Linked DNA regions of Homo sapiens. The protein of the gene in region 1 interacts with the protein of each later gene in a pairwise test. Each region holds a gene or a part of one and is shown on either strand. Other genes may lie near its edges.

What was found.
Region 2: the proteins of FMR1NB (region 1) and WT1 interact in a two-hybrid assay, tested with the Homo sapiens proteins (one large-scale study listed by BioGRID and IntAct).

The regions. Positions count from the first base shown.
Region 1 is NC_000023.11:147,998,015-148,001,842, forward strand, and holds part of FMR1NB (FMR1 neighbor protein), read left to right. Parts: intron 1-3,828.
Region 2 is NC_000011.10:32,393,901-32,397,728, reverse strand, and holds part of WT1 (Wilms tumor protein), read left to right. Parts: intron 1-1,321; coding exon 1,322-1,472; intron 1,473-3,828. UniProt on the Homo sapiens protein: Transcription factor that plays an important role in cellular development and cell survival. Recognizes and binds to the DNA sequence 5'-GCG(T/G)GGGCG-3'. Regulates the expression of numerous target genes, including EPO.

The DNA.
Region 1 (3,828 bases):
ATTAGTTCAACCATTGTGGAAGACAGTGTGGCAATTCCTCAAGTATCTAGAACCAGAAATACCATTTGACCTAGCAATCCCATTACTGGGTATATACCCAAAGGATTATAAATCATTCTAGTATAAAGACACATGCACACGTATGTTTATTGCAGCACTATTTACAATAGCAAAGACTTGGAACCAACCCAAATGCCCATCAATGATAGACTGGATAAAGAAAATATGGCACATATACATCATGGAATACTATGCAGCCATAAAAAAGAATGAGTTCATGTCCTTTGCAGGGACATGGATGAGGCTTGAAACCATCATTCTCAGCAAACTAACACAGGGACAGAAAACTAAACACCGCATGTTCTCACACATAAGTGGGAGTTGAACAATGAGAACATATGGACACAGGGAGAGGAACATCACACACCAGGGCCTGTCAGGGGGTGGGGGGCTAGAGGAGGGAGAGCATTAGGAGAAATACCTAATGTAGATGACGGGTTGATGGGTGCAGCAAACCACCATGGCCCATGTATACCTATGTAACAAACCTGCACATTCTGCACATGTATCCCAGAACTCAAAGTATCAAAAAAGACAAAGTTTATAAAGATTTGCCCTATGGCAAGTGATGTCAGCCGTGTTTGGTGTCATGGTAGGTTTGATATGTTACTCATTTTTTTCTTTTACACTTTCAAATAAACTCATAGCAAACATTAATATATCCATAAATATTCATCTATGTTCCACCTAAAATTCTTATGTACTACTAGTGATAGACTACACTTTGAGACATACTGCTCAAATTAATTTAAAAATAATTTTCTTTCAGAGTACGGAAGAAACCAAAGGTGGAGGGCAGGGTAAAATATATTCTAGACTTATGGTTGAGACTGCCACTGATGTTGCTCATCTTAGTTAAGATGTTTAATTGTCGCTTTCATTTCAATGCCCATTGTAATGACCGAAAGATCTATAAAGGGTGAAAACCTGGAGAACCTAGAAAGTTTCCATCTGGCATCTATATGCCAGAAACTTGGAGGGTTCTCTGAAAGATAAAAACATGATGGAGAGAAATCACAGCAACTTGTGTTTCATGTCAAGCCAAGGGCAAGCCTGTCCAGCAGGGTCTGGAGGCTAGGGCACTCTGAGTTGGGGACTCTAAGTTGGGGGATCAATATTCTAGAGGAATTCCAGAGAGCACATAACTTGCTGAATATAACTTAGGATGGAGACTTGGGCCTCAGTGTGCTACTGTCAGCCAACACTTACTTCAGATGGTGTGCTGAATCGAGTGGCAACAAGGACAGCAAATTGACGAAGGGGAACACTGAGCAAACAAACAGCAATATGGAACTAAAGTCTTGTCAAGGTCCCTTCCATCTGTAGCTCCCTTCTCATGTCATGTAGGACAGAGGGTTCTCTGATCTGGCAAAATGTGCCTAGCAACATTAATCTCATTTCTTGTCCTTGTGCTGGAAGCACTCTCCCAGGCCCTTTGTTCAGCCAGCTACTTCTAGTCTTTTTTTTTTTTCCACTTAAATATCATCTCCTCAGAGAGACTGGCTCCCATTTAAAGTAGCCCCCCTCCTTTATTCTGTATCAGTATCCACTTTTCTTCATAGCACTCATTACAATTTGTAATTACTTAATTTGTTAGTGGTCTGTCTTCTCCACTGCATTGTAGTAAGCTCCATGAGGGCAGGGATCTTGTCTGACTTGTTCACTGATATATCCTCAAAACACAGAATATAGTGGGTGTTCAATAATGAGTAAGCATTAGTAGAAAACAAGCAGGACAAAATGGATTATGTTTAATATTGTCAAGGTGTAATATATAGTGAAGATAAAATTGTCATGATTGAATATGCACTATTGGAATATATGAAACAAATAGTTTTAGAAATTTAAGTAGAAATCGTCAAAACCACAATCATGGTGAGATACTTTAATATTTATCTTTTAGTCCTTGACAGAAAAATAAAGATACAGAGCATTTGCATAATATAATTTAGCTTGATTTAACATTTATAATAGAGTTCATTGTGAGAGTACACATTCAAATGTATGTGTATGGAAGTTGCTCTCATTAAAATGAGAAAGAAGATATTATCATTGATATAAAGGAGATTTAAATATTACAAGTGAATAGTCTTATGATTCCATGCTAATAATTGCTTTGTAAATAGATGATTTCCTAGCAAAATAAAAATAACAAAATTAACTGTGACCATGAAGAAGCAAAAGATAAAGAACTACCCCTCTCCAAAAAATGAAGACTCAGACTTTTTCTGGATGAGTTTTCCCAAACCTTTAATGGATCAAATCATTCCTATATTGTTTCATCTGTTTTAGTCTAGAAAAGCAACAGGAAGCTTCCTAGGTTATTTTATGAATGAAACAGGTATAACTCTTATGCCAAAATTTACAGATGTAGCACACAAAAGAAAACTGCAGACACACTTCACTTAGGAATGTTGAATCATGAATCCTATATAAAACATTAGCACTTGTGGACTTTGTTCAAGAATGCAAGAATATTTTAATATTGGCAAATATATTAATAACATTCAATAATTAATAGGCAGGGGGAAATATCATCATGGCAGTAAATATTAAAAGGATTTGATAGAATCCCAGTTCTATCCCTGATTCAAAATGAAACAAAATAACAACAGAAAATTTGTAGAAAACTAAAACTAGAGAAATACATCCTTAATTTAATAAAGGGTATCTATCTTACACCAGCAGCCAACATTATACTTCATTATGAAATATTAGCACATTCCCATTAAAGTCAGGAATGACTCAAGAACGCCCATTATTATGGTTATTAATCAACATAGTTTAAACATTTCTAGGCAATACAGTGAAAGAAGAAAAATAATTCAGGTGTTAATATTGTAAAGAAAGGAGACAAAGTCATCTATATTTAGTGATAATATTATTGTCTATCTGGAATGAAACTGAAGAACAATGAGAACTAACGAGAGTTAACTAAGGGAGGAAGAAAATATATGTATAAAAATCAATAGCTCTCTTACATACCATCAATCCACTAGAAAATGTGGTGAAATGGATTATGTTCACAAAACAACAAAATATATATGATGCCTGGGAATAAATGTACTAAGAAAAGTGCAGGGCCTATCTGAATACAATGATAAACCTTATTCAGGGACATAAAAAGAGACTTGAATGAACAGAGAAACAAAACTACTTAGGTGAAAAAATTTTGTAACATTATCAATTCTCTCCAAATGAGTCTACATTTAATTGAATTCATGCCTAGCACGTGGGACACACAATAAATGATTTTTGAATGAATGATAAATAAGTGAACATAATTACCATAAAATTTAGAATTTTTTTTGACTTGACAAAACGATTTTAAGGTTCATCTAAAAAATTCTCAGAGCTGAAAATAAAATTTGATAGTAGAGACAATGAAAGGATTACCAGATCAGTTATTAAAACATAATGACATAAGATAGGCCGGGTGCAGTGGCTTACGGAGGCCTAGACAGGTGGATCACGATACCAGCCTGGGAAACATGGTGAAACCCCGTCTCTACTAAAAATACAAAAATTAGTTGAGCGTGATGGTGCATGCCTGTAATCTCAGCTACTCGGGAGGCCAAGGCACAAGAATCACTTGAACCAGGAAGGCGGAGGTTGCAGTGAGCTGAGATTGCGCCATTGCACTCCAGCCTGGGCAACAGAGCGATACTCTGTCTCAAAAAAAAAATAAAAGAAAAGATAAAATAAACAATAACATTAGTATTGGCACATGAATAGATAGGTTGGTGGAACAGAATAGAAAGTCAAGAA
Region 2 (3,828 bases), on another chromosome or scaffold:
ATAGGGACTAGAACATAAGCATGGGGTAGAGTGGAAAATGCACAGGGCAAGGAGTTGGTTATATTCAGAAGTGGTTCCAGGTCTTAGCACAAAACATGGATGCACTTTAGGCCAGGCATGGTGGCTCACACCTGTAATCCCAGCACTCTAGGAGGCCAAGGTGGAAGGATCCCTTCAGCTCAAGAGTTTGAGACCAGCCTGAGCAACATAGGGAGACCCTATCTCTACCAAAAAAAAAAAAAAAAATTAGCTGGGCATGATGACTCTCACCTGTTGTCCCAGCTGTTCAGGAGGCTGAAGTGGGAGGATTACTTAAGCTGGTGAGGTCGAGGCTGCAGGAGCCCCGATCGTGCCACTGCACTCCAGCCTGGACAACAGAATAAGATCCTGTCTTAAGAACAAACAAAACCAAAACATGGATGCACTCTTGTGTCAGCATCTCACCGCCTTTGGGGTTGATTTACTCATCTATAAAGGAATGAGGAGAATTTAGTGGCCACTCAGGCACTTGCTCAGCTCCCATTTATGACTCCCTGACCCCAAGAAGAGGAAGGGGAGCTTGCCTCTTTGTTTTCCTCCAGTTCTTATTCTTGGAAGACTGACAACACACACACTGCACTTCCACAAGATAAAGGGGAGCAACAGATGCCCTGCAAAGGACGTGTGCAGAGCACAGAAGGCAGATGGATTCCAGTGCTTTCTGGCCTCACTATTAAAGGTTGTGCTGGCTTCACCATGGCCTTCTGGTGGGTTTTGCTTCCTTTCACAGATGGGATCCCCAAATCCAGGGGCTTCTTCTTCCTTGTTATTTACTTATACTTGGACGATCTGGTCAGTTAGGGGCTCATTCATTATCCCACTTTTTTCTAATAAGGATGTCCCCACCCATTGCAGACTGGCTCTAGGTCATGTGGTCATGACTCCAAGTGGGAGGGAGTAGTTAGACTTTGGGACTTTGGACTTGCAGACATCACTACCTCAAGAGGAGAAGCTGAGAGATAGAATGGATTGGGAGCTCTTCCAGGTACCAGCATTTCTTTTGCAGAGGCTCTGGGACAGCCATTTCATGTAGGTTTCATCTCAACAGCCACTTCTGGTTGCTCAGTAGTGATGATCTTAGAGCACTGCATTGTAGAATGTCCTGATCTAGCATCCATTACTGATGTCTGCCATGGGGATCTGGAGTGTGAATGGGAGTGGTTTTAGGTCTGCACCTGCCACCCCTTCTTTGGATATACTCCAGTGCTCACTCTCCCTCAAGACCTACGTGAATGTTCACATGTGGCTTAAAGCCTCCCTTCCTCTTACTCTCTGCCTGCAGGATGTGCGACGTGTGCCTGGAGTAGCCCCGACTCTTGTACGGTCGGCATCTGAGACCAGTGAGAAACGCCCCTTCATGTGTGCTTACCCAGGCTGCAATAAGAGATATTTTAAGCTGTCCCACTTACAGATGCACAGCAGGAAGCACACTGGTAAGTGTGCCCGCTGTCCAGTCTTGGGCAAACATGGTTCAAGAGCTCCTTTTCCAGGCTCTCACACTGCTAAGGACCCAGGTTATTTCCAGGATGGAAAGTAAGCACTGCTTTGAAAGGTCTGATCCAGGTGTTGTAAAGAGGCTGTGGGGCCATTTTGCATTCTGATTATCTATCCTTTATTACAGAGGTCAGTAAACTGTCTTCCAGAAAGGCAGAGCAGAGTGGTAGAGAGAAAGTGCCACAGAATTAAAGAGACCTGTGTAGGAATCGTGTTGGTGTTAGAATACTATTAGCATTTCTAAGGAGAGAGGAGCTGGCCTGGGAATATAGTCATCAGATGGTTTTAGGAGGTCGATGGGCAAGATCATTGTGAAATTTTAGAAGAGATGGTCCAAAGAAAAACTTACCTGCTTGGGTCAGTAATAATCAACTAGACAGGAAGGGGAAAATTGATTGTTAGTTTGATTTTTTAGTGATCACTTAAAAAAAAAAGGTCAGTCATGGGGGCTCACGCCTGTAATCCCAGCACTTTGGGAGGCCGAAGTGGGTGGATCACCCAAGGTCAGGAGTTGGAGACCAGCCTGGCCAACAAGGTGAAACCCCGTCTCTACTAAAAATACAAAAATGAGCCGGGTGTGGTGGCACGCACCTGTACTTGGGAGGCTGGGGCAGGAGAATTGCTTGAACCTAGGAGGCAGAGGTTGCAGTGAGCTGAGATCTTACCACTGTACTCCAGCCTGGGCGACAGAGCAAGACTCTGCCAAAAAAAAAAAAAAGGAGAGAGAGAGATGATGATTTTTTATCTTTGAAGATACGCCAATGAAACTGGATTTTCCCCCAGGTCAGAGAGGCTGCTTCTGGGAAACAGAGAACTGGCATTGTTTGGTGTTGGCCACCTTGAATGTGGACAGCCATGTCACAGAACGTTTACTCTGGGCCTTGTGGGCACTAGGTGGGAGTGTGGGAGTGTGGTAAAACCCAGGTTTTCCTACAGAGGAGCTACTGCTGCCTTTTCCACAATCGAAGAACAGCATTATTATAGGATCACTGTTGCAACTGTGTTATTACTGCTGATTTTGCTCTTGGGAAGCTGGAGAAAAAAGTGAGCTGCATTCAGATTTCCTTGGACCATTGAAATTTGCTAATTCACTGTGTCCAGAGGATGCAATTCTGGTGTCAATCTGAGTTTGCACTCAGTGGGCCACAGACTTTGAGGCTAAAAAGGAGGGGACCAGTGGCATGTTATGTTTTTACACATTTCCCCAAATGGGATCATTTGAAAAGTGACTGTCAAGGTTATAAGGAAAACGAGAAAGTAAAGTCCTGCCTGAAAAATGCAAGGGAATAAATGAAGGCAATATGGTTGTAGAAACTTTTAGTGAGAGAGAAGCACTTAGAATGCAGTGAGGGTTAGACAACTGTGTGAAGGGAAGGCAGTGAACAAGACAGCCAAAACCCCAGACCCACTGGAGCCTTTAAGAAACTCTTCCTTGCAGAAGATGAGGGCAGGTTGGTATTTAACAATCCTACAGTCCCCCTTGAAAGAGAGCAATATTTTCTTATTTATTTATAACAACAGTACAGACTGTTATATTAAGTACTTTTTGGGTGTCAGGCTCTCTACATGTATATTTCATTTAATCCTCACTCACAAAACATTTATGAAGAGTATAGGATATAGCAGAAAGAGGACTCAAACTCCTTCTTTTTAACTGCAGGTTATAATCCTCCTTCTCAAAGAGTTCCTGGTTTGTTTGGGAGCTAGGATATAAAGAAATGAAAAGTGACTGAGAGAGTACATGATCATGTACTAAATCAGAGACAGGAGGTACCGAGGGGTTTGGAGGGTATCAGTTTGAACTAAGGTCATCCGAGAAAGTTTCTCAGAGGAAGAACAGCTTGGGTTAGCCAGTGGAGGCTGGTAGTTTGGGCAGAGAAAGTGATAGATGAGCAGAAGCTCAAAGGCAGGGGAAGGAAATCAGACTCAATAGGGGTAACATCTTCTCCAGCTCACAGAGGTGAAACATAAGGCACCAACCTGGATACAAATACAAAGAAAGGGGCCAGGTGCAGTGGCTCACACCTGTAATCCCAGTATGTTGGGAGGCGTAGGCGGGAGGATTGCTTAAGGGGTTCAAGACCAGCCTGGGCAATATAGTGAGACCCTGTCTCTAAAAAAAATATTTTTAAAAATTTAGCCAAGTGTGCTGGTGTATGCCTGTAGTCCCAGCTACTCAGGAGGCTGAGGTAGGAGGATTGCTTGTGCCCACGGTTTCGAGGCTGCAGTGAGCTAGGCTCACACCACTGCGCTTTAGTCTGGGCAACAGAGAGAGACTCTGTCTCTGAGAAAAAA